Linked DNA regions of Homo sapiens. The protein of the gene in region 2 binds, or shares a complex with, the protein of the main gene of each other region. Each region holds a gene or a part of one and is shown on either strand. Other genes may lie near its edges.

What was found.
Region 1: STK24 (region 2) and STRN share a complex: the UniProt entries of both Homo sapiens proteins name them as parts of the core of STRIPAK complex.
Region 3: STK24 (region 2) and STRIP1 share a complex: the UniProt entries of both Homo sapiens proteins name them as parts of the core of STRIPAK complex.
Region 4: STK24 (region 2) and STRN4 share a complex: the UniProt entries of both Homo sapiens proteins name them as parts of the core of STRIPAK complex.

The regions. Positions count from the first base shown.
Region 1 is NC_000002.12:36,837,521-36,844,544, forward strand, and holds the end of STRN (striatin), read right to left. Parts: 3' UTR 178-7,024; downstream 1-177. UniProt on the Homo sapiens protein: Calmodulin-binding scaffolding protein which is the center of the striatin-interacting phosphatase and kinase (STRIPAK) complexes.
Region 2 is NC_000013.11:98,455,101-98,462,124, reverse strand, and holds part of STK24 (serine/threonine-protein kinase 24 isoform b precursor), read left to right. Parts: intron 1-227; coding exon 228-351; intron 352-1,684; coding exon 1,685-1,753; intron 1,754-4,820; coding exon 4,821-4,957; intron 4,958-6,948; exon of another isoform or gene 6,949-7,024. UniProt on the Homo sapiens protein: Serine/threonine-protein kinase that acts on both serine and threonine residues and promotes apoptosis in response to stress stimuli and caspase activation.
Region 3 is NC_000001.11:110,044,604-110,051,627, reverse strand, and holds part of STRIP1 (striatin-interacting protein 1), read right to left. Parts: exon of another isoform or gene 6,941-7,024; intron 6,789-6,940; coding exon 6,723-6,788; intron 6,614-6,722; coding exon 6,550-6,613; intron 4,949-6,549; coding exon 4,877-4,948; intron 4,087-4,876; coding exon 4,012-4,086; intron 3,857-4,011; coding exon 3,759-3,856; intron 2,517-3,758; coding exon 2,390-2,516; intron 2,169-2,389; coding exon 2,068-2,168; intron 1,286-2,067; coding exon 1,219-1,285; intron 673-1,218; coding exon 568-672; intron 1-567. UniProt on the Homo sapiens protein: Plays a role in the regulation of cell morphology and cytoskeletal organization. Required in the cortical actin filament dynamics and cell shape. Part of the striatin-interacting phosphatase and kinase (STRIPAK) complexes.
Region 4 is NC_000019.10:46,743,429-46,750,508, forward strand, and holds the start of STRN4 (striatin-4), read right to left. Parts: upstream 3,023-7,080; 5' UTR 3,003-3,022; coding exon 2,721-3,002; intron 2,663-2,720; exon of another isoform or gene 2,629-2,662; intron 1,357-2,628; exon of another isoform or gene 1,332-1,356; intron 1-1,331. UniProt on the Homo sapiens protein: Calmodulin-binding scaffolding protein which is the center of the striatin-interacting phosphatase and kinase (STRIPAK) complexes.

The DNA.
Region 1 (7,024 bases), on a different chromosome or scaffold from region 2:
GGTCAACAAAAATAATATAGTTTTGGAGAAAAACACTGGCAAATAGTAAGAAAAAGGGTTTACATGTAGTATAAAAAGAGCACCTGCAAATTTTAAAAAACACAGTGGAACATGGGCAAAACTTTAATAAAATAACAAAATAAACATTTTAAAATGCAAATATGCAATTCACTCAAGTGAAATTCAAAAGGCAAAGTTTTATTTGGAAAAAGTACTTTTGAATGTGGTCAACAGACAACTTACAAGAGTTGGAAAAAAATGTTTGCATCCAAGATAAGAAAATCTGAACATATATTGTACAACATACAAAATGCTTTCACAAACTAGTTAACTAAAAAGACAAACGGTACAAACATATGGACCAAAAATAAGAAAAATTTAAAAATGTATATAAAAGTATAACTACGAATATTTGTGGTAGGCAGAATTCTAAGATGGCCCCCATGAACTCTGCCCCTCATGTTACTTCCATGGTTGATGTTACATTGCAGGGCAGAGGGACTTGGCAGATGTAATTAAAGCTACTAATCAGTTGACCTTAACAATCTGGGTGTGCTTAAACTAGTCACAAGAGCCCTTTAAAAGCAGTTTTCTCTGGCTGGTAGAAGTAGAGTCAAAGTATAAAAATAATTTGATGCACCCTGGCAAGCTTTGAAGGTGGAAGGGACCACGTGCAAGGACCACGGAGCAACCTCTAAAGGATCAGATTTGACAGTCAGCTAGGAGACAGGGACCTCCATCCTCTGACTTTAATGAGGCTGGAAGCGAATTCCTCCTCAGAGCTTTAGTTGAGTACCCACCCTGGAAGACACTTTCATTTCAGCCTTGTTGGGCCTTGAACAGACAGCCCAGTTGAGTTTCCCTGGAGTTCTAACCTACAGAACTTTGAATAGATAATTCAGTTCTGAGTGCAATCCAGATGACCAAAACATTTGAAAAGATGTCTACATTTATAGTAGTCAGGAAAATGGAAATTAAAATAACACTGAAAAATCACTACATCCACCAGGATTTTTTTCTTTTTTCTACGTATTTTTTAATGTTACAATAGTTATTGCCATGAGTATTAAGGGAAAAGTGTTTTTATACATTTACTGATGGAAATAAAAACTGTTCCGGCCACTTTGGGAAACAATCTGTCAATATTTATTTAAAAATTTAAATATACATACTCCTCAATGCAGCAATCCTACTCCAGGGAATCTATTCCGCAGACGTAAAACCATCATGGTGACAAACATATACACAGGAATGTTTATTGTAATAATAAAAAGGAAATAAGAGCTATGATAGACTTAGAGAAATTCTCATCCTACATTGTTAAATGAGAAATGTGAGATGCAGAGAACGTACATGATCCCATTTATTTAAAGCAAACTGCCCACCAAAATATCTTCTCATTAACGTTAGACTGTATATGTTTACTGATAAATTTGAGAGACCTTTAAAAATTTGTAAGGTGCTCATGATACACATTATATTAGAAAAAGCAAGTGCAGCATAATATGTAGAATAAAACCCCATATGTAATAACTGGGTATACACATTTGTATGAATAATTAGAAAGATACATATCAGGGAGGTAGGAATGAAGGGGTATGATGGGACATGCTTCGTTTTGCCATTATGAATCTTTATGCATTGTTTTTTGCATTTAAATTCATTTCTGTCACTTTCTTAACCTGAAAAACATCAAATCATCCCCCTTCCCTGCTCTATTTTTTTTCCCTCTGCACTTATCACTAATATTCCCTATATTTTCACTTGTTCCCCCACCTGGAATGTGCTGCATCAGGTGAAGTTTTTGTTTACTGCTGACTGCCAGCAACTAGAACTGTGTGGCATATAGCTGGCACTCAAATATTAAGGAAAGTAGTCTTCTGCTACTCTTGATGTTCATTTTAACCTATTTCTCCTAAAACCCTGATGTTCTAGAAGCTATCAGGAGTGTGACCGAACTACATGACCAGAAGTCTGTATTCAGAGAGTGAACAAGTCATTTGCTGGATGCTTATTTTATTAGGTGTTTTACATCCGTTATCTCAAATCAACCTAATTAGGCAGATCTATTATCCCCATTTCATAGATGAGAAGCCAATTTAGAAGAGTTGACTTGTCTAAAATCTAACAGACAATAAATGTCCTATTGTCCAGGCCAAATTCCTGCTTTCTTCTGTGTTGAACTGATCTTAAAGGAATCATATTTTTAGTAATTTTAATGACAGTTCTTACATGGTATATGTTTAATGTTGAGATTATTCGTTGAATATTTCATATGTAATTTGCTGATTCTTTTAATGATTTAAAGTCATTTGAATATTAAATATAAATAGTTGGTCTCTAACTTGTTGACTGTTTTATTCCTAAAACAATTGCACTGTTCAGCTAAAGCCCTGGGCCCTGCTGGAGTGCTGTCAGAAAACCAAAGACAGAGATGTTCCTAGGAGAGTTAATAAACATTGGTACAATTACTATAAAATCTTCAAGACAAAAACCAGCCTGAGAGCATCCTGAGGAACTTTGTCCCAGAATTTTCCTCTCCAAAGAAAGCTCCCCAGAGGGATGCCTTTCCTGACAAGATTCCACTGGGAGGTTCGTCTTTCTCCTGGACAACAGCAGTCAGTAGGGCCATCTGTAGGTTGCAAGGAAAGAGTGTGGAAGTGGACCTGTTCTGAGCCCAGGATAATCAAGGCAGGCTCAGGTTCCAGGCTAGAAAAGCTCCCTTTCAACTGATCAGAGGCCAGTGGGGAACAGGGGATGAGCAGAGGAGATATGGGGGTCCGGGGATAGATGGGAGGTCATCAACAGGGTTTAGGGACACCTTCCTGTCCCCACCATGCTCTGCTCAGTTTTCACGCAGGCAGGACTGGAACTGTGCAGTATAAAGACGTTGCTACTCAGGCATTTTGTTGCTACCTGTGAGGTAAAGTCCAAATTCCTCTCCAGTCAAGGTGCAGACCTCAATCTCAGGATAAGCTCCACAGAACCAAATGCATTTGAGCATCAACTGTCAAGAGATTTTTTTTTTTTTTTTTTGGTCTTTGATGATTTGTATAATTTAGATTTTGAAATGGGCTCTCTGATTACTCAGCCAACAAATATTTATAGGGTACCTTTTATATGGCAAGGCACCAGGCACAGTGCTAAGAGGAACATAAGAAAAACGAACATGGTCTGTGCCTTAGGGAGCTTATATAGACAAAAGCAAACAAATAATCATTAACCTTTATTTTTGTAGGTGACAAATGAGCAATGCATAATATGCAAAATCTGGGTTAAGGGAGAGAATCAAGATATTCAGAAAAAAAATCTCATTACCTGCTCCTCATGCCTCAAAAAAAATCCAGAAGATTTTGAAATGCAGGAGATAAACATCACATATTCCTTATTAATCTTTGTATTCCAAAAATAATTTCTGAAAATCACAGGAAAGAAAACTTTTGTGTATTTATTAGCAGAGGCAAGCTATACTATCAATTGGACACCTCAAGGGCACAAAATTGCCTGGAACTACAACCTTCAAGTTCAAAATTTCTACCTCCAGAAAGCAATGATGTTTCTAAAGATTCTCTTATTTTTTAATTGTGATTAGTAGATGTGTATTCCTACGTATTCTACAGCAATGAGAAATAAGGAGCACATTCTTTTTTTTTTTTTTTAATCAAATCGATTCTGACAAAAGGAGTTTATTGTCTTGCTTGTTAAAAGGCTGACCAAAAAGAAAGTAAGTCTGAATGTTTCAGAGTTGGGAGAAAGCCTGATTCCTTCTGACCCTGAGATATACAAGGAAACTGAACAAATACCAGGCAGCAAAATACTGAGACATTTACCACATAAGAAAGCATTCTTACATAGCAGTTGAGTACTGGGAAGGTTGTTGGGGAGGGTATTATTCACAAACAACTGTCAAAAGATATGAGACCACCGAGTTTTTCTTTTTCTAAAAATCACACTGAGTGATATTATTCTATCAAGAGGATATTCTGAAATACGTGGGCTATCGAAAAAGATGTAAGTACATTTTAAAAATGTTTTTAAAAGCATAGTCAAAACCATTCAAAAGAGAACTCACTCTGTAAAAACGATTCTCATATTTTTTCATGAGATTATCACTTGGCTACTTTAGGATATTTCTTACATGCCTGGTCTTCATCCTGACATATGCAGATGACACAAAATACTTGGGCTTATATTTTTACAGCTTCCTAAAATATAATGAAAACTATTTCCTCTGACACTTTGCCATGGGGCTCTAGGATACTTTTGATATATTTCCTAAAAATATTTAATTTAGATAACAAGGACCAATGACAAGCCAGAATTGGAACCATTCATTCTTTGAGGTCAGAAGTGGTATACTGCCAGCCCATTGAAGTTGAAATGGAAGACAATGTGGCTCAGGCCACAGGGTCAGTTGCTTCTCCTTTTTGGTAAGGTACTTCTTTCCCCACACTCTCACCCAAGTTATCCAGCCCCCAAAATAAACTGTTTCTGATAAAATTACTTTTGCTCTAAGTTAATTTTGTTTATGCATGAAAAATTATTGTCTTGGTCCCATTTCCAAAGGGAAGTAGTTGGATGCCAGCATACTTTAACATTTCGGCACATATACAAACCACAAGCTGTTTATTTCTACAACTCACGATTAATGTAAAACGTTGCTTTCCATGTGCTTTTTTTTCTTAAAGTTTTCAGTTTGGGCATATTTAATTGTGGATGATGGGTTTCCCTACCATTACCCTTAATTTGATGCTATTAGAATTTTTAAAAATCTTTTGTTTGAGGCAATGAATTGGGAACCTGGTACATACACTAGATTTTATGATGGCATAAGAAATTATAGCACATAAATTAATAACACTATAGTACTCCAAGTGCTGTTTAACAGATGTTTTACTGTGGGCTCTCCTTTACATCACTGGGTTAATTACCTAAAGAGGGACACAGAAAAAGTCAATGTGGAGCTGGCATCTGGACCACTCTTCACGTAAGGTGAATGGCTAAATCACCAAGGACAAGATACTTTTCTATGAAATAGGTCCTTCCTATCAGTAGGTTATTGCAGACTTTGCTCACCCAAATAATGACTTCCAATCTAACTGAAACTACCATTACCTTTAGTGAAATATCAATTAGGAATAAGGAAAGGGTTAGGTTTTGTAGGGTTTGAGTGATACTTAGAAGCGAGTCATTTTATGTTTGGTGGGTTTTGAATCATTTGATATACAAAACTTACTGAGTTAAAATTTGTGTTTCAGAAAACGGATTCCAATTTTCAGAGCCGTATGTCAGTGCTTCCTTAGAGAACTGGAGTGTTCTGGTCATCCTGAGAAGTAACAGGCGGAGGGATGCTCCATGATTATAATGTTTAGGTTAAAAGGTATGCTTGACTCCCAAGGTGTTCTGGGAATATTTTATGTGCCAGGACAATGCTGGGGCCCTGCAAAACATCAGTGATCTTGGGAAACCCAGAGGAGGTCAGAATACTACCTGGCAATCTTAGGCTGACCCCAGGAGGTTCATCAATCCGTGAATAATTTTTGGAGTTTTAATGACCTCCTGAGATAGATCTCCAAAATTACTCAAGCTAATCATGTCTCAGTTCTCATTAAAAAGATAAAAGAGGTGTTTCCAACACTACTGAAAATGTGTGTACATACCAAAGGATATAATACTCATTAGTATACCAGCATACAGAACACCAAACAATGGTGGATAGTTTCAAGGATATCAGAAGAGATGCCTTTTAAATTTCATATTGTATTGTGGATCCTGATTGGAACAAAAAGACTGTGAGTTCTGGGCAGGCCAAAGGCCTTGAAAAATAATGTTGATTTGAAGGGGCAGGGAGTGTGGAAGGCTTGTGTATGTCTGTTAAGTAGCGAAACAAAAAATAAAAACATTGTATTTATATATGTGTATAAATTTTAAAAGCCATTTAAACTGAACATTTGAAAAACATAAAACCTATTCATTAAACATATGTGTCTCTGAAAGTACCACTGACCCAATCCTAGAAGCTATTTTAATTTGGCTTTTCAGAGGCCCAAATTCTCTATAAACTTCTCCTTCCTCACAATCAGTAATTAAGACTGGTTCATTAATTTTGGACTCATGTATACTTTGTCTAATATCCTTTTATTTCTCTGCACCCCTCTACAACTCCTCCCCCAAAAGCCCCAAATCAGACTATGTTAATTTAACTGATTACTGTAAAGCCACAGCTAGATCCCAAATCTGACAAATATTCCAATTCATGAGACACCTATAGCATGTTATCTATATTTGTACACTTTATTTAAAAACAAATAATACACTTAGAGCCACCAAAGATGGATATCTTAATTAGCTTATCCATACCCTGAATTTACATAAGAAACTTCTTGCACCACAAAAATTAGCATTTGGATTAATTTACATTAATTGATGTAACTAAAATTTAAAATACCTGAAGATCAAACAATCTGGCCCAGGGCTCACCAGCTGGAGGACTGGGTGTGGAGAGAAAGGGTTATTTAGGAATCTGAATTGATGACACCCTGTGGTCAGCTCTAGTCAACTGAACTTGAGAAAACATAAAGTAACCAGCAGATTTCAATATTAAAAAGAAGTGGTTCCTCCTAAAAAAGGTATTAGATCATAGAGTTGGGATTAGGGTAGGGGATACCTATTAATCTGGGCTGGAAAAAAAGTGTGTGGAGAAGGGGAGTTGTATTGTTTTCTCACAAGAGGCAAACTTCAGCCAAACAATGAAGAGATAGTAGGGAGGGAGATGTGTGGTAGACCAAAGACTTTCTGATTGCTGATAATAACAAATTTAGCAGCTCTCTACAAGTCAATTAAAATACCATTCTCTGAGACATTTTCAGAGAGGAGCTAACTAACACCCACCCAGGGGGGAAAAATCATTCTACATTAACAAGGCACTCACTGGTTCACAGCCTGTTAAAAACCCAGGCAGACATTAGAATCTAAATTAAAATGATTTTGAAAATTTGCATCAGAGAGATGACAAGCATGTGGT
Region 2 (7,024 bases):
CGCCAGGGAGTTGTGGAACCACCTCCCGATGGTCTCTTCTCTGTGAGGGAGGAGGCGGGGGGGTCTTTGGGAAATCCCAGAGGGACTGGACAAGGGTGTGATGGGTGGGGACTTGGGGCTGGTGGGTGTGGGTTTAGAGGTCCCCAGGCGGCCTCCCCCTGAACGTCCCAGCGCCCCCAGAGCAGGTGTGCGAGCACTGATGGGATTTCCTGCATTTCTGTGTTAAGGGAAACAGATGGCCAAGCCTCGGGGGGCAGTGATTCTGGGGACTGGATCTTCACAATCCGAGAAAAAGATCCCAAGAATCTCGAGAATGGAGCTCTTCAGCCATCGGACTTGGACAGAAATAAGGTACGTCTGCTCACTCCAGAATGGCCACGCTGACCTCAGTCTGCAGTGTTTTGGAGGCACTTGTGTGTGAAGCTTGCTGTGGGTGCGGCTGGGGTCCTTTGTGGCAGCTGTCCTGGAATTTTGTTGCTAGGGGATGGGCAGATGAAGAGCTTTAGTTCTGTCTGATGATCCAGGTGTTCACACCAGGGAGTCTGGCCTCTGGTCTGTTTTGTGCCACTCTATTCTGCTCTCTGCAGCCCTGCTGTTGAGTTAGGATGTCCCGATGTGGCAATGTCATGGGGTTTGGGGGTGACCCGTGAAATGACTTCATAGCTCTGAGGGACTGTTGTGCATGTTGCGGTTACTTACATACATATCATAATTTTGTGACTGAGTTTTAAGGACCTTATAAGTAAATGCATTGCTTTTGATATTTATGTAAAACAATTTTGATTAATTGGTTTTATGCCTGTTAAATTTATGAAAGGCCATATATTTAGGGTCTTGTAAAGCATAGTGGTGTAGTTTCTTTCAGGCAGGGTGGGCCAGTGGCTGTCCCCTGTTGATCCTACAAGTCCCGCTTTGATAAGTGAACAGGTGTTAAATGTCCAAATAGAGGTTGCAAAAGTAGAAACTCGGTCTCTGTCCTAGACAGCCATTGGAATGGCCAATCTTGACCTGATTTCTATTTCCAGGGTTTCATTAGTAAAGTACTTTTCTCTCTCTCTCTCTCTCTCTCTTTTTTTTTTTTGAGACGGGGTCTCTGTTGCCCAGGCTGGAGTGCAGTGGTGCCATCAGAGCTCACTGTAGCCTCAAACTCCTGGGCTCAAGTGATCCTCCCACCTCAGCCTCCTGAGTAACTGGGATTGCAGGCATGTGACATCACGCCCAGTTTATTTAAAACTTTTTTTTTTTTTAATAGAAACATGGTCTCACTATGTTGCCCAAGCTGGTCTCGAACTCTTGGGCTCAAGTGATCCTCCTGCTTCGGCTTCCCAAAGTGTTGGAATGACAGGCATGAGCCACCACGCCCAACCAGTAAAGCACTTCTGCGTAGATAGCAAGACGAGGCAGTTCACCGCCTGTGCCCACACAGAGTCCCCTTCCACATGGAACCCAGATGCTGGTTTCCCCGGTGCGTGGGTTTTGCATGTCACTGCAGATGAAACTTTGAAGTCTAGTGAGAGGCAGCCGATAGTCTCCTTCAGATGTTATGGTGCGCAGAGGGTGTTTCCTCAGCGTGAAGTGTAGAGGCAACTCCTGCGCTTCCATAGTCCAGGTGGGAGGTTTATTAAATTATTGCCAATGTGAACGTCAACTGTTTCTGATGACCTTTTTTTCCCTCTCCCCCAAGATGAAAGACATCCCGAAGAGGCCTTTCTCTCAGTGTTTATCTACAATTATTTCTCCTCTGTTTGCAGAGGTAGGTACCTGGCTGGCCTTTTCGGAGTGGGAGGGGAGGGGGAAGGAGAAGCTGGACACACTTCAGTGGTGATGTTGCCAGTTAAGAGTTGGGGACATTAAGACAAGCTGGCAAAGGCTCGGAAAGCCTGCATGGTGCCTTCCCAAAGGCTGTCAGCACCACCTTGCGCCTCCCCTGTCCTGGGTGATGCCCACTCCGCCGCAGCCTGGAATGTGTAGACTGGATGACAGTGACCCAGCCCGAGACCCTGTGTCACCCGTTGCCCTGCTTTTTAGCAAATCTCATTGTGTACAGCCTGCTCTCTTTGCCTCAGACCAATTTCTGGCCATGTGAAAAGTAGATTCTTTCTTCTAAGGAGACGTTGGATGCCCTGGAGTCCTCCGGTTTCCCCTGAGCCACATGTTTCACTGAAGTCCCTCCTCTGCTCAGCAGTGCTGTGCTCCCAGCTGGGCCTCCCCACGCCCACTCCCTGCTCAGCCTCTCCCTCCCAGAGGAAAGTGCTCCCGTGGCCGTGTTTTGAGAGATTTTCAAAAGTAGGCTTTATAAGAATGAAGATTGTTCTGCATCTGGTTAGTAGCGGATTTGAAAATAAGTTGGAAGTCCCCTCTTTTCTTGTTGTGCCCCTTCCTGGCTGAGGCTGCCTTTGAGGTACTCACTGTGGGCCACACACGCATCTGTTTGCGTGGGGATCTTCCCTCTTTGGGCAGTTTTCCACTGCGGCTGTGTTTAGGGGTCCTGGTCCTTGAAGGGGAGGTGCTCAGGAGAGGAAGTGTCATAGGAGCTCATTCTCCTCCCCTGTGCCTGCGTCACGCAGCGGGGGACCCCCGGCCATGGGCCGTGCCTGGCCAGCCACGGTCCTGCCAGTGCCTCTTCCCAGCCCTCCAATAAGCCTTCACCTGTTGCCCTGCCCAGCAGGTGCCCTGGAGGGTTTGTCTGAGGGCCTCTGACCTGGCAAGTTCAGGGCCCGGTGGGAGCAGGGCTGTGGCCAGAGCCCGAGGCCTCACCTGCAGCTTCAAGTGGGAAGTAGCCGAGCCCGCTGGTGTCGGGGAAGCCACAGGGCACGCGGAGGCCCTGCTGGATGATGTCTGGCTTCAGCCCTGGCTCATGGTTCTGGGCACCTGTGTTCTTCCTAACTAGGATGTCCGGGTTGAGCGCCATCCTGCGCTTCATTTTGTCCCATGGGAGTTGGCCCCGTGGGATTTCCAGGCTGTGCTCCTGCGGCCCTGCCATTGGCCGCTGGAATAGGGTCAGTCAGGCAGTTAGGGAAAGTGCATGGACTTTTTCATTCTCCTGAGGCTGTTTATTTTTTTACTGGGCCCATGAAGCAACTTTGACATAATTATTCAGGACATATCCTAAACGCCGTCATATCCTGGATTTTCCAGGTAACCAATTGCTAAACTCACAGGCATCTTTCCCAATGTATTTTTAAGAATGATATTTGCTACCCTAGAGTTCAGAGTGTTTATTGTGTATTATTTCATACAATACTTGTAGAAGCCCAGTAGAAGGATTATATCCCCATGCTTACAGATGAGGACATTGAGGAGACGGGTGTTGGCGTCCCTGCTTTCCTTCAGGGAGCACAGGTCAGGTTGCTCCCTGAAGTCAGTGATGGGTCCAGCACGTTCCACACGGCAAGGGGACAGGCCCTCTCCCAGGGCGGCCCTTCTGCCGCCTTTGCTCCTTCTTTGAGACTTAGGGGCGGGGCATGGGCAGGAGGGAGAGTGCTGGATTGTAGCTGACCCTCTCGGGACTTGTAAATACTGTCAAGTGATTGGGAGTCCTAGACAAACACGAGTGGCCGCCTCGGGGCCGGCGGCGTGGCCCTGTGACAGCAAGAACTTCAGGAACAAATGCTCTCTACACCCACTGGCCCTCCAAGGTCAGACCCTTCTAGTTCCTGCCTGCCCCTTCAGTAGCGAAGAGAGAAGCCGTTGCTCTTAGGGCAGGGCTGGGTTTGGAAATGACAGCATGTGTTCAACAACCTGAAAACCAAGCTGAATGTCGCCTGAGATGTTTCTTTCTTCCCTGAAGAGGAGGCGGTGTCCATCACAAAGAGCCTCTTCTGTTGAGTTCTGAGCCATGCTGTATCTTGACTTGAACAGCTCTTATTTTCACAGTTCACGTTTTTGGGCCTCCAGAGAGAGACTTGGAGTTGACCTTCAACTGAGGGAAGTGTCTGAAGGCACTGTTGTGATTTCTCTTGGGAGTAGAGGTGCCAGGAAGAACACTGGAGATTCCCAGAATTTAAGGCTGCCACTTATTTACATGAAATCAAATATTTTGACTCTACTCTGGATCACAAAGGCAGTTTGCTGGAGTTTAAGAACCAACCCATTAACATTAGGAAGTAAGCAGTGTTGAGATCAGAATAACTTAGGATAGGCTTTGAAATTGCTTTTCTGGTACAAGGTTATGGTTGAAATAGGAAAACAGCACAGAGAGGACAGTCCATCACGGTGAGACTTGGGAAAGGCACACAGAGAGCTAGTCGTCTCTGTTCTGGCCTCGAACAGTAATGATTATGGTCTGATGATTGCCCTGTGTATACATAACTGCTCTCAGAGCATTTGAATCACCTTTCTTCAAAAGGAACCCGGGCCGGGCACAGTGGCTCACGCCTGTAATCCCAACACTTTGAGAGGCCGAGGCGGGCGGATCACTTGAGGTCAGGAGTTCAAGACCAGCCTGGCCAACATGGTGAAATCCTGTCTCTATTAAAAATACAAAAACTAGCTGGGCATGGAGGCAGGGGCCTGTAATCCCAGCTACTCGGGAGGCTGAGGCAGGAGAATCGCTGGAACCCAGGAGGCGGAGGTTGCAGTGAGCTGAGATCACGCCACTGTACTCCAGCCTGAGCAACAAAGCCAGACTCCGTCTCACAAAAAAAAAAAAAAAAAAAAGCAATTTGAAGTGGCCTGGAGCCCTAGCCAAAGCTTTTCCCGGACACCCTGGGGCTGGGGTAGTGTCGTGGTCCACACGCCGTGTTGTTCCTTGAACAGCATGCTTCCCAGTTTTGCAGCTGGTGTGCTTCATGCCATTCTTCCTGTTCGTGTGTTTTCAGTTGAAGGAGAAGAGCCAGGCGTGCGGAGGGAACTTGGGGTCCATTGAAGAGCTGCGAGGGGCCATCTACCTAGCGGAGGAGGCGTGCCCTGGCATCTCCGACACCATGGTGGCCCAGCTCGTGCAGCGGCTCCAGAGGTAACTACCCAGGGCCCCTCTGGGCTGGGGAAGGAGAGACCTGCACTTGGGCTGGGACTTAGTTGATGAGTTTGGTACTTGATTCTTGGCCTGTCTGTTCCTGTTATCTTGCAGGCCTCAGGGTAGACAGAGTTGAATTAGAGGAGACTTTGTTCTGAATTCTAGAAATCAATGTGAATGAAGGATCTGAATCTGGAAACTACTGGAAAGCCCACAGGACTTAGTGCATTTGTAGCTTTTGCCACATAAATACAGGGTGGTGGTGAAATACCTGTTTCCTCTTAATTATGCAGCTTAATTATTGGCCAGAGAATGATCGTTCTTAGCCAGATGTGTGTAACTATCTATCTGGTTTTCGGCTTTAAAGTCAAGTGTGAGAAATGACAGCAGCTTTGGTGTGGTCAACTCAGCGGGAGCGGGCGCAGGTGTGTTCCCTGTGTTAGCTGTGTGTGTCATGTCTGGAAGCCTCCTTGGTAGGGGTTCATCTGTGCCAGCCTGTAGGGAGCTTTTGTCCCTGCCCAGTGGCCCCACCTGTTGAATGCACTATGGGTGAGGACTCAGTGGGGTGACAGTTTTGCCCTCCCTGCCCCCTCCCAACTTGTTGTAGGAGTATCCATGGGAACCAAGCCCCTCCTGACTGCCATCTGGCACAAGTGCAGGCGTTTGGAGGCAGTGGATGTGTGCTGGGAAGCCGCTCTGTGTGACCTGAGGGTGATTTGTCACTGGGCTGTCCTCCACACCCCCAGGAGGACCAGGCGTGCTGCTGCCTTGACAGTTCATCTTCAGGTGTCCAGGCTGACACCTCCCAAAGCTGGCTGAGACTCTGTGATCATGAGGGGGATTTCTGGGTCTTTCCTGAGACTGCGTCCCACCTGACAGTACATAAAGAAGTTTTGCACACGTGAGGTCCCTTTTGCTATTTGGAAGTGATTGAAGGGGCTGCCTACTGTCCTGTGAAGAGCCCCTCTACGTGGGGACAGCAGGAGAAAACCACAGTTCTGATACTTCACGTTTATGCTTCTGAACTCGGGTTTCTTAGTAAGACATTTCAACTTTTTAAGTTGCTAGAAAATAAAAATGATCTACTTGGCTGCCTTCAATTTTGAGGCAATTGAAGGACGATCCCTCCCTCCTTTGATACTAAAAACAATATAGGAATAAAGGAAAATAGAATTAAAAAGTCACCCATCTTTTGCCTGAACACAAACTTTTTGATTTCTCAAACTTAGCATCACATACCTCATTCTAGAGGCATTTATTTCCCATTAGAAAGAGCTTTATAATAAAACAAATAGAACAAAACCAGAAACGGGTAGGATTGTTACTGTCTTGTTGGGCATTTTGCTCTCTGCTTTTGTAGTATTACTTTTAAAACCAATACTTTCCACACTGTCCAGAATTGCCTGAAATTGTTATGAACTGTTTGTTTATATACGTGACTTGATTTCCCCAGGGCAGCTCCAGGGCACAGAGTGTGTGGCTTGTATGTGTTGAACTGATCCACGTTTCCCATTCCCAGGCCCCTATCTCTCTGTTCCTCTTCTTTTAGTTGTTAAGGCAAGTTGATCTGTACCAGTGCTGGCCAGTAGAAGTACAGCGTGGGCCACACACAGAATTTTATGTTTTCTGCTGGATGTGGTGGCTCATGCCTGTAATCCCAATGCTTTGGGAGGCCCAGGCAGGAGGATCGCTTGAGGCCAAGAGTTTGAGACCAGCCTGGGCAAAATAGCAAGACCCTGTCTCTACCAAAAAAAAAAAATTTAGCTAGGCATGGTGGCTTGTACCTGTGGCCCTAGCTACTTGGGAGGCTGAGGCTGCAGAATTGTTCGAGCTGAGGAGTTCGCGGCTATGGCTGTGATCACGTTTGCACTCCAGGCTGGGCAACAGAGTGAGAACCTGTCTCTAAAAACCAAACAAAAAGAGAATTTTACATTTTCTAGTAGCCATATTTTTAAAAAGCAAAAAGAAGTGAAATTAGTTTCAACAATACATTTTTTAACCTGCCAGATCCAAAGTATTATTTCAACATTAATAACAACAATCATCAATAAGGTATTTTACATTTTT
Region 3 (7,024 bases), on a different chromosome or scaffold from region 2:
TCCCAGGTCACACTGCTGCTTAACCCTTTGGAAGTTACTGTCAGGGTGACAAACCATCCCAGTTTCCCTTGGACTGAAGAGTTTCCTGATACATAGGACTTTAAATGCTAAAACCAGTAGAGTTCCAGACAAACCAGGATGGTTGGTCACCCTAACTATGTGTCACTTTGGAATCTGAAGAAAGCTATGGATTCCTTCCAGAAACATTCCGGTGTACATGTACACACAGTTATCAGAGGATTCAAGGACCTCCCCACCCCAAAGGCATCCACAGACCCAGAGTTAAGGAAGATTCTCAGAACCCTGATTATGTTACCAATCAAGATTAAGACGACATGGAAAAAGTTCTTCTATAAATGTAGATTTGTTTCAGTGCATGACTGGGCCTCTTCCAGCTTCCAGTTCAATTCATCAAGGAACTGGGAATTGGCCCTTAAAATGCAAGGATACGGCTACAGCAAAGTTAAGTGAGAAGGCACAGTGAGCCCCACCCTGGGGACTCCCTGCTCCCAGCACTCTTCTTTGAGCTCCAAGTTCCAAGCCTGCTGACTACACTGACTCACTTACCATTGTCCTTGAATGCTTCCACTTTGTCAGCTTGTTCAAGATCCGAAGCAGATTGATACAAGAAAAGAGGTTCCTCCAGCAAAATTGGTTACTGTCACCTGCTTCCTGCAGGGTAAACCCAGGAACAATCAGCCCTCATGGCTGCAGTGTGTGCAGCAGTTTCCAAAAGTCCCTCACACATGATCTCAGGACAGCCGGGTCTCCAGGCCTCTACCAGGAATCCCCTGCTCTCAGAGCAGCCCCAGGACTCCATCCCAGAAGCTGGCAGGGGACTAGGGGAAGAGGGAGGCTCCCTAGACTTTTCCTGCAGGAAATATGAACCATGATACTGGGAGCTGTGGCCTTGGGCTGCCCCAGAGCTCCTACTGCCGAGTCCAGTGTTGAGGGAGAGAAGCCCTCTACTAGGTGAGCTCTGGATCAGCAGCCCCTGAAGACCACACTCCCTGACTAATCCCTAAATCCAAATCTCTCTGCTCTGCAAGAGCCCTCCTCCTGGCCCTTCTGTACACTTACAGTGCTTTAAAAGCCGGGCACTCCACAGTGATTTCACCTGCGGGAGACACCTCTATTCCTGCAGTGTTGGGGTAGGCAGGCTCTCTACCCACTGACCCTGGTGCCAAAAGGACAGCTGAGGAGAGCCCAGCCACTCACCAAACTCTCCGCCGTCAGCTCTGGCAGCTCATGCACCACGCAGTGAGGGTAATCCAGGACAGAAATGCTGCAGAGGGGAGAGGAACCAGATGCCCACCATGAGCAAAGGCCCAGGGCCTGGTGGAGCAGCCGTGCCTGAGCCAGCTCCCAGCTTTCCTCCCTCACTTGTTGGAGCAGAAGTAGGAATCTACCTGATGTGTCCCACCCCAGTTTCCCCACCTATAAGATGAGGAAATATCTGTTACAAGAGAACTTGTAAAGCACCCCTGTAGCCAGAGGCCAGCTTGTTGATCTTGTAAGGGGAAGAGACCCTCACAGCTTCCCCCACAGCAATCAATGTGGGGCGGGGGAGGAGATAGCTCAGGGCAACTAATTTATGCCAAACCTTTCTGGAGACAGGGTCTGGCCGGCGCCCTGTGGTATATCACACTGACGAGCAAGTAATGTCAAGCACAGCTGGCACCAGGCCAACAGCAGGGGCTAAGAGTCAGCAGATAGGGCATTACAAGGCACATGGCCGAGCCCCTTAGAGACAGCAAGCAGCCCATGGACTCCTCAAAAAAAAAAAAAAAAAGTACAGAAGGGACAGGGAGGAAAGTACTAGATCCTGGGATGAAAACCCTCCTGCCCAGGCACAGACCAAGTCACCTGGGGCAGGACTAGCTAGACTCAGATTTGACACAGTGGGCTCTCCACAGGCAGAGGCCATGTCTCATTTATCTTTATGTCTTGATGCCTAGCACAGTGCTGGCTCGTAGGTGCTGGAAAAATGGACACAGTGGGAAATACCAGCTGGGAACTCTGCCGTCTGACCATATCCACCCCTTCATGGTCCCTGGCCCTCATCACCTGTTCTTGGCAGTGATGTAGGACATGATGTTTTGATTGAAGAACTTTAGGATCAAAGGAATGCAGTTGGCAAACACCAGGTGCTGGGCCATGTATTCAAACTGAAGCCAACAGGAAAAAAAAAAAAAAAAAAAGGCGCGGCCCTTGGGACCTTGCCCTCTTTCCTCCAGGGATGAAAGGCCTTGGCTGAAGGGCCATGTCTTAGAACATTCATGCAGAGTTCAAGTGGGTCAAAGGCCAAGGCCCCCGTTCTTGTGGGCTGGAGGAGCAGCAGTGCCCGAGGCCCCAGCCCACAGGACAGGAGGGAAAGCCCTGTGGGTACCTGGTAGACATGGTTCAACTTAAAGTGCTTGAGCAGCAGCAGCAGGACAGCAGAAATGGCCTTAACAATGACCTCTTTGTGGCGGTTTACATCCACCCCCAGCTTCATGCTCTGCAACACTGTGGTGCTGGAAACATAATTGCCTGGGTAAGCCACCAGCATGCGCAGTACCTCATTTCTAGGTGCCCACAGAAAAGATGGACTCCGGAGCCTCCCTGGGCAAAGACTCCTACCTCCCCACTCACCCCAAGGACATCTCAGAAGTCAGCCGAGGGCTCCCCCATCCACCTCCCAAGCAATGTAGCCTCGCACAATTTATTTCTTCCCCATGATGCCCTCAAATACATTCTCAGTCTGTTTCTCTGCCTTTCCTCCAAAAATGAACTTCTTCTCCTTTCCAAGATCTCCCCTAAGCTTCTGCTGCCATATTAACCTGAGTTCTCCAAATGTGTTCTGTGGAATACCAGGATATTGGCAAGTTTCATGTCATGGAAAAAAAGGGTTTTGGAGTAAGATAAATTTAGGAAGCACTGAGTTACATTGGTTTCTTAATTCAGGACTTCTCATTGTACATCTTTGTAAGAGGAATTCCTCCTTATAAGAGAAATCCATGAATCAAATATACAGTATTTGACTCTAGAACCTTTTTTCCAAGGACCATCACATGATGGCCTAGTGTTCTGTGATCCTCCCTCTGGTGTTAGCCAACCCCTGCCTCCTCCCTCAGCCGGCCATCACTGCCATACTCCGGGGCCACAGCCACCCAGGAGCTGGGCTCAGGGCTGGTGGCCCAGGCAGGCAGAAGATCAGGTCAAGGTCCAGGTCCTTCTCAAAGTAGAACATGATCTCAATCTGGACTCTCACATGAAAGACAAGTACAGGGCACAGGGCAGAAGAGCTCTGAAGAATCTCACTCTATCGCCCTGAGACATTTGCCAGCATTCTGCGTGCCCAATCACTGGCGAAAAGGGATGTCTCTATACCTGGCACAGGTTCAGCTGTTGCTGGCAAGCTGTCTACAAACTAACCCTCCTCATCCTGGGTGTCTCAATCACAGCTGGAGAGTGGGGCTTTGGGGAAATGTCCAGGGTGGCCCCATTCATTTTACAGAGGAGGAAATGACTTTCCCCAATTCACTCAGGAGTTTGCTCAGTGGTAGAGTCTACACTAGAATCCAGGCCAACAGGACCAAGCCATCTCCCCAACCAGTGAAACTCTTTAATCTCGTAGTTTCCTTTTTTTGGGTCAAAAATACCTACATTTAACCTGTAGAGCTGGGCCAACAACAACCAACCTGACAAGAGGAAAATGTTTGCCCTTCTCCATCTATCTTCTGCCCCACCTGCTTCATTCACAGAATGATACTCACGGCATCTCCTCAGGCAAGACGTCCGCTAGGATGTTGATTGAGTCTGTTTTGGCTTTTGAGGTGGGTGCTGCAGCCAACAGGATCTTCAGGAGGGCAATCTGGGAAGAGTAGACCATTCAGACACAGGTCTGAGAGCCCAGGGTCAAAATTAAGCTCTGAGCAGTCCTCCTGTTGGTCTGCAGGTGGCAGGAGGACGGCAGGGCCTGCTCTAAGGCCAGTGTAGTGGGAGTGTCCCACTGCAGGCACCACTCACCATATACTGAGGCAGGCTGGGGAGCAAGCCTTGGTAGAGGGTTTCTGCAGGGACTTGCTCAACTTCTTCTTCTCCCTTTTAACATAATGAGTACAAGCATAAAACCCCAGCCCAGAATACAATCTCCTGAGCCAGCTTCCTAGCTGGCTGGAGGAAAACCTGTAAACAGTGATGTACATAATGATGTTAATGATGATAACAGCAAACCCTGAACACAAACAATGTGCCAAGCATTTTACTTGTAATAACTCAGTTCATCCTTATTATTATAACCCTATAAAGGTATTATTATTCCTATTTCACAGACAAGGAAATAAAGCATAGAGAGACCCAGTAACTTGCCTAAGTTGCCATCCATAAAGTGGTGGACCCAGGCATCAGAGGCAGGTTCCTGACTCAGTCTGTATTCTTAACCCTGCACTAGACGTGTCTCAGCCTGTGCACTGGGAGGTGGACTGGGAGCTCTTTGAGGGCAGGGCCTGGGGCAACCTTGTGGTCTAATCCCAGCACAATGCCTGGGAAGAGCTGGGGATCCCGGGGGCTGAAGAGGACCTCTAACTTTTTTTTTTGAGATGGTCTCGCTCTGTCGCCCAGGCTGGAGTGCAGTGGCGCTATCTCGGCTCACTACAAGCTCCGCCTCCCGGGTTCACGTCATTCTTCTGCCTCAGCCTCCTGAATAGCTGGGACTACAGGCGCCCGCCACCACGGCTGGCTAATTTTTTTTTTTTTAGTAGAGACGGGGTTTCACCATGTTAGCCAGGATGGTCTCAATCTCCTGACCTCATGATCTGCCCTCCTCGGCCTCCCAAAGTGCTGGGATTACAGGCGTGAGCCACCGCGCCCGGACTGAGGACCTCCAACTTACCCCTGAGAGAGGGGAGCGGAGGTATTCCTCCTCCATCTGTGCCTGGACCTCTGCAATCGACGTGTACTTGTGCTGGTGGGAGAGATGGGAAAAGAAGGGCTGGGGAAAACATTCTCTGGCCAAACTCCCTGCACTCTAGCAAAATCCCCACACATTTGTCTTCAAACACAGTCTTCTGAAAGAGGATTAAGTCACCACAAAAATCCCTAGCTAAAATCCCAAACCCCAGATATTTTTTATTTTTATTTTTTTGAGATGAAGTCTTCCTCTGTTGCCCAGACTGGAGTGCAGTGGCATGATCTTGGCTCACTGCCACCTCCGCCTCCCAGGTTCAAGCAATTTTCCTGCTCCAGCCTCCCAAGTAGCTGGGACTACAGGTGTGCACCACCACACCTGGCTAATTTTTGTATTTTTAGTAGAGATGGGATTTTGCCATGTTGGTGAGGCTGGTCTTGAACTCCTGACCTTAGGTGATCCACCCACCTTGGCCTCTCAAAGTGCTGGGATTATAGGCGTGAGCCACCATGCCTGGCCCCAAAATATTTTTCTAAAAGGGCCCCTTCCTCTTGCAACTACAGTAAGAAGCCCATGGTAGATAAGAAAAAAGTAAATTAAAGGAGGGAAATGGCCTTTCAGATAGCTACAGCAACAGGAGAAAAACTGAAAGCAAAATCAAGTACTCAAAAAGCCTAGCTGCAGAGAGACCACTTAGTACTACAAATTCCAAAAATATATTTCAAAAACATAAAAACAGTTTCACTCCAGATAGCTGTTAGGGGAGATGCCTCTTCCCCACTCTTAATGTTCTCTCCCGTGTGGAGGGACAGGGGTTTGCGAAACACCCCTCATCTCTCTCTGCCCCGTCCACACACTCACTCCTCCCTTCTCTGATCGGAGAGTATGGGAGGGGACACAGGGCGGACTTGTCCTCACCCTTCTCTTTTCTCTTTAGAACCTGTCTGCCTGCTGAGAGTCTGCTCTCTTCTCCTCCCCGCCACCAAGCTTGGCAGAGCCTCCCCACACTGCCTGGGACTGGTAGGTAACTCTGCCTAATTCTGGAACAACGTATTAGGACACTACTGCTGTGTTCTTAAGCCTCATTCTCCATGGCTCTATGAGCTATAAAGTTGGCATTACAATCTCCATCTGCCTACTCCTCTATTTCAACCGCCTGAGAACGTGGGCAAGGAAAAGGAGGGCTATTTATTGAGCTCTTTAGAATTTCAACAACTGTCAAGTAATATAATCCTTTTTTTTTTTTTTTTTTTTTTTAAAGAATCCGGGTCTCACTCTGTGGCCCAGGCTAGAGTGCAGGACCATGATCATAGCTCACTGTAGCCTTGATCTCCTGTGCTCAAACAATCCTCCTGCATCAACCTCTTGAGTAGCTGGGACTACAGGTGCATGCCTTGGTGCCCGGTGGTCAGGTAATATAATCTTTAAAGACTTCCCAGTCAGTCCCAAACAAAAGCTCAGCTAAAACAAGTAAAACTTATAATAAAACAAGCAAAACTTACGAAAGACTGTTTGCAAGGTTATTGCAAAGTCCACCCCGGCCTCTACCCCAGGTTCTTGCAGGCAGACAACAGTCTTAAAAGGCTTCTCCCTACAGGCTGGTTTCACTCTACTCACTTAGGACCAAACAAGCCAAAAGCTCACCCAAAGCCACTCACCTGTTTCAGAGTCTTGATGCTTTCGTGGATTGGCCTGGGCAGCCCCACCACTGTGTTCGTGTCACTGGAGAATAAAGAAGGCCCTGTGTTGAGCCTCGACATCAAATCACCTGGGATCCCAAACACCAAAGGCCGGGAGAGCTAACAGCAAAATGAACTCGGCTTTTACTCACCTGCCTAGAGTGTAACCTATAAATTTGCTGCGGCTGGACTCAAGGAACATCTCAATGTCTTTCTCTCTGCCACATCACCAAAAAAGAGAGAAAGAAAAAAGGTTTTTAGCAAATGCTATTTCAAAGTGTTACAGTTAACAAAAACACAGCATCCAGAAACTGTGAAGCCAGGAGAAGTCTCCTATAATTGTTTTTCTCTTTGAAAAAAGGGAAAAAACTGAAATTTTCAGAGAATTTTAATGTTTCTTATAATTTTGCTGGATCAGTAACCTGGAAATACATGTTAACTAGTTTATTCATAA
Region 4 (7,080 bases), on a different chromosome or scaffold from region 2:
GATGAGAAGATGGTGTGGTGGGTGCTGTGCGGTGCACTGGTGCAAAGTCCCAGAGGCCAAGATTCAGTCCAAGCTCTGCTATGACTGCTTGGGTGACCCTGGGGAGGCCACTATGCTTGCCTGAACCAATTTTCTCAACTGTACTGGGTAGCAGAGAGGTACAGAACATGGGCTTAAAAGTCTACCGACGGTCGGGCATGGTGGCTTATGCCTGTAATCCCAGCACTTTGGGAGGCCGAGGCAGGTGGATCTCTTGAGGCCAGGAGTTCGAAACCAGCCTGACCAACGTGGCAAAACCCCATCTCTACTAAAAATACAAAAATCAGCCAGGCGTGGTGGTGGTGCACACCTGTAATCCCAGCTACTTGCGAGGCTGAGGCAGGAGAATCGCTTGAACCTGGGAGGCAGTGGTTGCAATGAGCCAAGATCATGCCACTGCACTCCACCCTGGGTGACAGAGTGAGACTCTGTCTCAAAAAAATAAAAATAAAAATAAATAAATAAATAAATAAATAAACAAAAGGTCCACCACAGACCAGCCCTTCTGCTCATCTGCTGGGATCCTAGATAAATCACCCTCTCAAAACCTCCATTTCCTCTCCTGATTTTTTTTAAAGGTAGGGGGAATATCCTTTATCCTCCCAGAATGCTGCAAGAATTAAATGACAGCTCGTATCTACAGTACTTGATACAGCGCCCCAGACATGGTATGTGCTCACTAAATTGCAGCTGGTACCGTTATTGCTGAGTGAGGTAATGACACTGCCTCTGCCTACATCACAGGGCATTGTGAAGATCTGATGAGATGTATGCTGGGAAAGAGCTTCGGAAGTAGAGAGTGGGACAGAAGTGAGAGCAGTTACATAAGGATTCTGCTCCCATCCCAGCCCCAAGCCTCAGCCACCACAAGTGAGGGCAGGGGGAGAGTTACTGGAGGGTCTTTACTCATCCTATGAACAAAATGCTTTTTTTTGAGACAGGATCTCACTCTTTTGCCCAGGCTGGAGTGCAGTGGTGCAATCATGGCTCACCGCAGCCTCAACCTCCGGGGTTTAAGCAATCCTCCCACCTCAGCCTCCTGAGTAGCTGGGACTACAGGCGCATGTCACCACACCCGGCTAATTTTTGTACTTTTTTGTAGAGATGAGGTCTTGCTATGTTGGCCAGGCTGGCCTCGAACTCCTGGGCTCAAGGGATTCTCCCACCTCAACCTCCCCAAGTGTTGGGATTACAGGCGTGAGCCACCGCACCCCATCCCTACCGACACAATTCTCATCAGCTATTTATTTGGGTACCAGCTTCCTACTAGATAGCAAACGGCAAATCGGAAGGGGAAAGGTGGGCTGCTACAAGCAGGTAATGACAATTTCTGCTAATAATAACCCAGTCCAAGAATCTTCAGACTTCCAGCGGGCCATTCCTGATCCCTTCAAATCCGGACATCTCCATGGTCCTCCAGTCACTGCCAATGGACCTGACGCTCCACGAGGTCACAAACCCTAGCCCAACTCCTCAGACTCTTCCATTCAACATCCCTGTCCCAAGCTACCCCAAAAACCACGGGGTCTTTTCCCAAGACTTCCACAAACATATCCCCTTCCCCCCAACCCCAGTCTACCCCCGTTCCGAGATGCCTCCTCATGTTGCCTTCGGGCTCTACAAAATTCTCCCCCCTAAAGCATCACCCCAGGGTAACCCCTAACTCGTCCTCATTGGCACCATCCCAGGACCCTCACCTCCATACTGGACATGCCCAACACCCCACACTCCAGTTCAGGGCTCTCTACCTACATCCTACAACACACGTGCCATCTCAGTGCCATCGCGCCCACTCCTGCACACCCCCAAAGTGGAACTTCCACTCTTAAGCTCTCCCATCCAGGCTCCTAGGGTACATTCCCTGCTCTGTCCACACTTCCACTCCAAAGAACCCTTCCCTGCACTGTGCAGCCACACATGCCCGGGATCCCCAAAGTTTCTCCTCAGAGGGGAAGGCACACACCTTCATCCTGGACCCCTTGAAACCCTCCTCCCACCCCTCGGGTCCTTACACAGCCCTCCTTCCGTGCCCACCGTCCAGTCGCCCCGAAACACACCGATCCCAGGTTCCCGACTTCCTCTCCCTAAATCCTCCCGGTTCCCCATCTGGACCCGCTCTTTCCCAGCGGGTCCCAAGTTCCCCCCTTGGACGCTCCCACCTCCAACCTGCACCTGGCTAGGGCCATGGTCGGGGTCGGGGTCGGGAGTCCCTCGGCGCCCGGCAAGCTTCTGCTTACTCCCACAGGAGACCACTCAGGTCTCCCAGACCCCTCCAGCTCCTCTCCACACCCTTTCCCGAGTTCTCTTAGCCTCCCCTCCAGGGCTCGAGTCGCCTCTCTCAGGAGCCCCGCGGCCAGCGTGCTCAGTCCCAGTCCCAGTCCCACTCCCAGCTGGTTGTGGTCCCTCCGCCCCTTTCTCTCGGCCGGTCCCGGTGATCCCTCCCACCCCCGGTCCCTCCACTCCCACCTCGGGCCGTCCCGGTCCCGTCCCACCCCGGAGTGCCCTCAGGACACCCCTCGGACGGCCCCTCACTCGCCCTCCGGGACCGTCGCGGTCCCCTCCCGCCCCCCCGCCGGCCGTCCCGGCGGCCATTGCTCCAAGATGGCGGCGGCGGCGGCAGCGGGTGAGGCCGGGCCGGGCCGGGCCGGGTTGGGGGTCGGGGGTCCCGGGACAGCGCTCACCTGTAACTCGGCGCGCTCGGCCTCCCAGCGGGCTTTCTCGGCTTCGAAGCGCGCCCACTCGTGCTGGATAAAGTGCAGGATCCCCGGCAGGCTCAGGGGCTCCGGGCCCGCCGTGGGCCCGGGGCTGCCTCCGCCGCCGCCTCCCTTACCTGCCGGGCCCGGCCCGGGGGCAGGGGCGGAGACCGGGGCCGCCCCAGTGGGGCCAGGGCCCGCGCCTGAGCCGAGCGGACGGCAGGAGGAGGCGGCGGCGGCGACCGCGGCGGCCGCTCGCTCCTCCATCATGGAGGCCCCGGGGCCGGCCTGCGCGCCCGCTGTGCCTCGCGCGCCTGCGCGGCCGCGCCAACACCCCCCCCCCTCCCCCGCCGCAACCACCGCGCGCGCGCCCGGCGGGGGACAGTAGGAAGGGGGGCCGGCGGCGAGCGCGAGCCTCGCCCACCCGGGTCTACACCGAAGGGTAGCGTGCCCGCGCGGGGGCCGGCGGGTGGGAGATCGCGCCCCGAGGAGGGCGAGGGAGACCCAGGCCCCGCGCGACGGTCCCCCTCGCTGGAGTGAGACTGAGGAAGGGGCCGCTTTCTGCCCCCCTCCTCCCACTTCGCCCCAGAGAAAGAGCCTTACCCCTTCCACACCCAAACACCACTCTCCTGGACAATTACTTTTACTCTGAGAGAAAGGGCGACCAGCAGTGGCCCCATCCTCTCTGATTGCCGGCCAGGTTGGTTGTCATGGTAACCCTTCCCCAGCGGTGGGGGCGAGGTGGTGGGGAGCAGCCTTCCCCTCGCTTCCACCTTTGTGGTTATGGAGCCCCAAACCTCTTAGGACTCTGCACCAGGAGAAGGTTGCTAAGGTAACCTAAGTGTCCGTGGTGGTCCTTCTGCTCCTATCCTCATTGATTACTATGGCAACCTCCCCCCCACCTAGCATTCAGGTAGAAAGGACCCCAGCCCCAAGGACACTGATCTCTAAGAGAAGCACCTCTTCCCCAGCCCCTCCCCCATAGCCACCTAGTTGGCATTACCATGGTAACCGTCTTCCCCTTCCCATCGTGGGAGGCCCATGCACCAAACTAACCAGGTGTTTTTATTTAGAGGAGATGCTCTGCTGAGGGGCAGTTGCTATGGTTACAGGGCCTGGACCTTCCTCCGGAAGGTGAGAAACAGGCAAGTTCAAGGCCTGGTTACTATGATAATAGAGCAGCCCCCTTCGAGTGACCCTAGGAACCAAGCCCAACAAAGGAGGGGATTTTTTTTTTTTTTTTTTTTTTTGAGACAGAGTGTAACTCTTGTTGCCCAGGCTGGGATGCAATGGCCCAATCTCGGCTCACCACAACCTCCGCCTCCCCGGTTCAAGCCGTTCTCCTGCCTCACCCTCCCAAGTAGCTGGGATTACAGGCATGCGCCACCACGCCCGGCTAATTTTTTTTTTATTTTTAGTAAAGACGGGGTTTCTCCATGTTGGTCACGCTGGTCTTGAACTCCCGACCTCAGGTGATCTGCCTCAGGCCCGCCTCGGCCTCCCAAAGTGCTGGGATTACAGGTGTGAGCCATCACGCCCGGCCAGGGGATGTTTTAAGAATGTCTCTCAGAGGTAGAGTGTGTCTATGGAAGGGGTTGTCATGGTAACAGCTTCTGTTGGCTTCTAGCCCTACCTTTTCTGGACACATTCATGCTAGAGGGATGGTTATAGGTTGCTATAATAACTGACATCCCTCCCATTCACCCCACCCCACTCCTGAGACACCCCAGGTGGTGCCCGAGATTATAGGACTTCAAGAGAAAGGATTCCCTGACCTTTCTCTTGCCACTTTTGTGGATAAGATGAAATTGTGCTCTATTGTACGGAAATGGCTGATTTGGGATTTTCTGGTTCTCCTCCTCTCAGGAGCGCAGCTCAGCTGGGCTGGAACTGCCCTCCTGGAACTCCCCCAGCCTACAACCTAGGAGGTAAGAAGTCCCTCAGTGTCACCTACACTCTCATGGAAACTGCCCTTCCTCATTCCTTAAGGCTTTCCCATGTCTCTCATTTTTTTCTTTTTCTTTCTTTCTTTTTTGAGACGGAGTGTCGCTCTGTTGCCCGGGCTGAAATGCAGTGGCGCGGTCATGGCTCACTGCAACCTCCACCTCCCTGGTTCAAGCGATTCTCCTGCCTCAGCCTCCCGAGTAGCTGGGATTACAGGCACCTGCCACCACGCCCGGCTAATTTTTTGTATTTTTAATAGAGATGGGGTTTCACCTTGTTGGCAGGCTGGTCTCGAACTTCTGACCTCGTGATCCGCCCGCCTCGGCCTCCCAGAATGCTAGAATTACAGGCGTGAGCCACCGCGCCCAGCCCTCTCATTTTTTTCTAACCGTCACATTCCCATTCCACAGGTGCAGGGACTGAGGCTCAGGCCAAATCGCAACTCAGACCCAGTGAACCCAAGGCCTGAAGAGAATTTGGATTCATTTACCTTGTTTTGTGGGGACTGGAGAGACAAGTAAACTCTCAGAGTAACTGTCCCCTCTGACTACCATTTCTAAGGCAAGCCCCCTGTTTCTACTCTTGCGCCCCCTGCTGGTTTCCTGCCCTGTCTGTAAGTTGCATGGCTTTTGTCCGTCTTTTTTTTGTTTGTTTGTTTGTTTTGAGACAGGGTCTCACCCAGGCTAGAGTGAAGTGGAGCAATCTCGGCTCACTGCAACCTCCGCCTCCTGAGTTCAAGTGATTCTCACACCTCAGCCTCCCCAATAGCTGGGATTACAGGTGCGCACCACCATGCCCAGCTAATCTTTGTATTTTTTGGTAGAGAGGGGGTTTCACCATATTGCCCACGCTGGTCTCTAACTCCTGACCTCAGGTGATCTGACCGCCTGGGCCTCCCAAAGTACTGAGATTACAGGTGTGAGCCACCACACGTGGCCCTGTCAGTCTTCTTTCTGTCTTCTGGAGGGCTGACCTAATGAGTACCTCGTTCATTCTGTATCCTCAAAACATGGGGTCCACCACAAAGAATACTTGAGTTTGTTGAGTTACTGAGTTGAATTAATTTATTAATGTGCCATAGCCAAGCTTTGAAAGCCCCTGTCAGGTTAGGGCTGGGGAAGGCTCACTAAAGATGGGCTGAGAGTTGGGGCTTCAGAAAGAACCCAAGAGAGAAGGTAAAGTTTACTGGTTTAAAGTACGACTCTGTAGCCAGCTTCTTGGATCAACTCTTGGGTCCACTACTTCACATTGTGTGACCTTGAATAAGAGACTTTAACTCTTTAACTCTCTGTGCCTTTGTTTCCTTTTTTTTTTTTTTTTTTTTTGAGATAAGGTCTCGAGGCCAGGCGCGGTGGCTCACGCCTGTAATCCCAGCACTTTGGGAGGCTGAGGCGGGCGGATCACGAGGTCAGGAGATTGAGACCATCCTGGCCAACATAGTGAAACCCCATCTCTACTAAAAATACAAAAATTAGCCGGGCATGGTGGCGCATGCCTGTAATCCCAGCTACTCAGGAGGCGGAGGCAGGGGAATCCCTTGAACCAGGGAGTTGGAGGTTGCAGCGAGCCGAGATTGTGCCACAGCACTCTAGCCTGGTGACAAAGCGAGACTCCGTCTCAAAAAAAAAAAAAAAAAAGAGTCTGGCTCTGTCACCCAGGCTGGAGTGCAGTGGCACAATCTCAACTCACTGCAACCTCTGCCTCCTAGACTCAAGTAATCCTACCACTTCAGCCACCAGAGTAGCTGGGACTACAGGTGCACACCACCATGCCCGGCTAATTTTTTAAATTTTTTTGTAGAGACGGGGTCTTACCAGTCCATGCTGGTCTCAAACTCCCAGGCTCAAGCAATCTCCCCCAGCCTCATCCTCCCAAAGTGCTGGGATTACAGGCATGAGCCACCACATCGGCTGGTTTCCATTTTTAAATGTGATCATAACACGAGGATTAAACAAGTGAATATGCCTAAAGTGCTTAGAACAGGGCCTGGCACATGGTGAGCTGCTAGAATTGTTATTATTATCCTCCCGATTCAGAAAAATGTAGAACATTCAGACCTTCAAAATCATCATTGTATCCACTTTGCCCCAACGAAGGGGTTTGTTGCCCTTAGAGGCGGTGAAGTCTGCATGGCTTTATCAGGGTACTAGATGATTCCTTTCCCCGCCTCAGGTTCCCTCACACCCTCACCAGCAGGTGGCACCTCTTCATCTGGCCATCAAATCTGCTGGTGTCTGGTCTGCGAGGGCCAAGAGTTGTGCTGGGCCTGAGGGTAGCCAGGACCTGGCTGCTGTCCTCTGCCCTGCTGGGCACCTCCTTCCTGGCCCAGAGTCAGTCAGACAGTGTGGCAAGAGCCAGGGCCTCAGAAGCGGAGACCTCGGTTCTCGACCCTGCATCCTTCTTA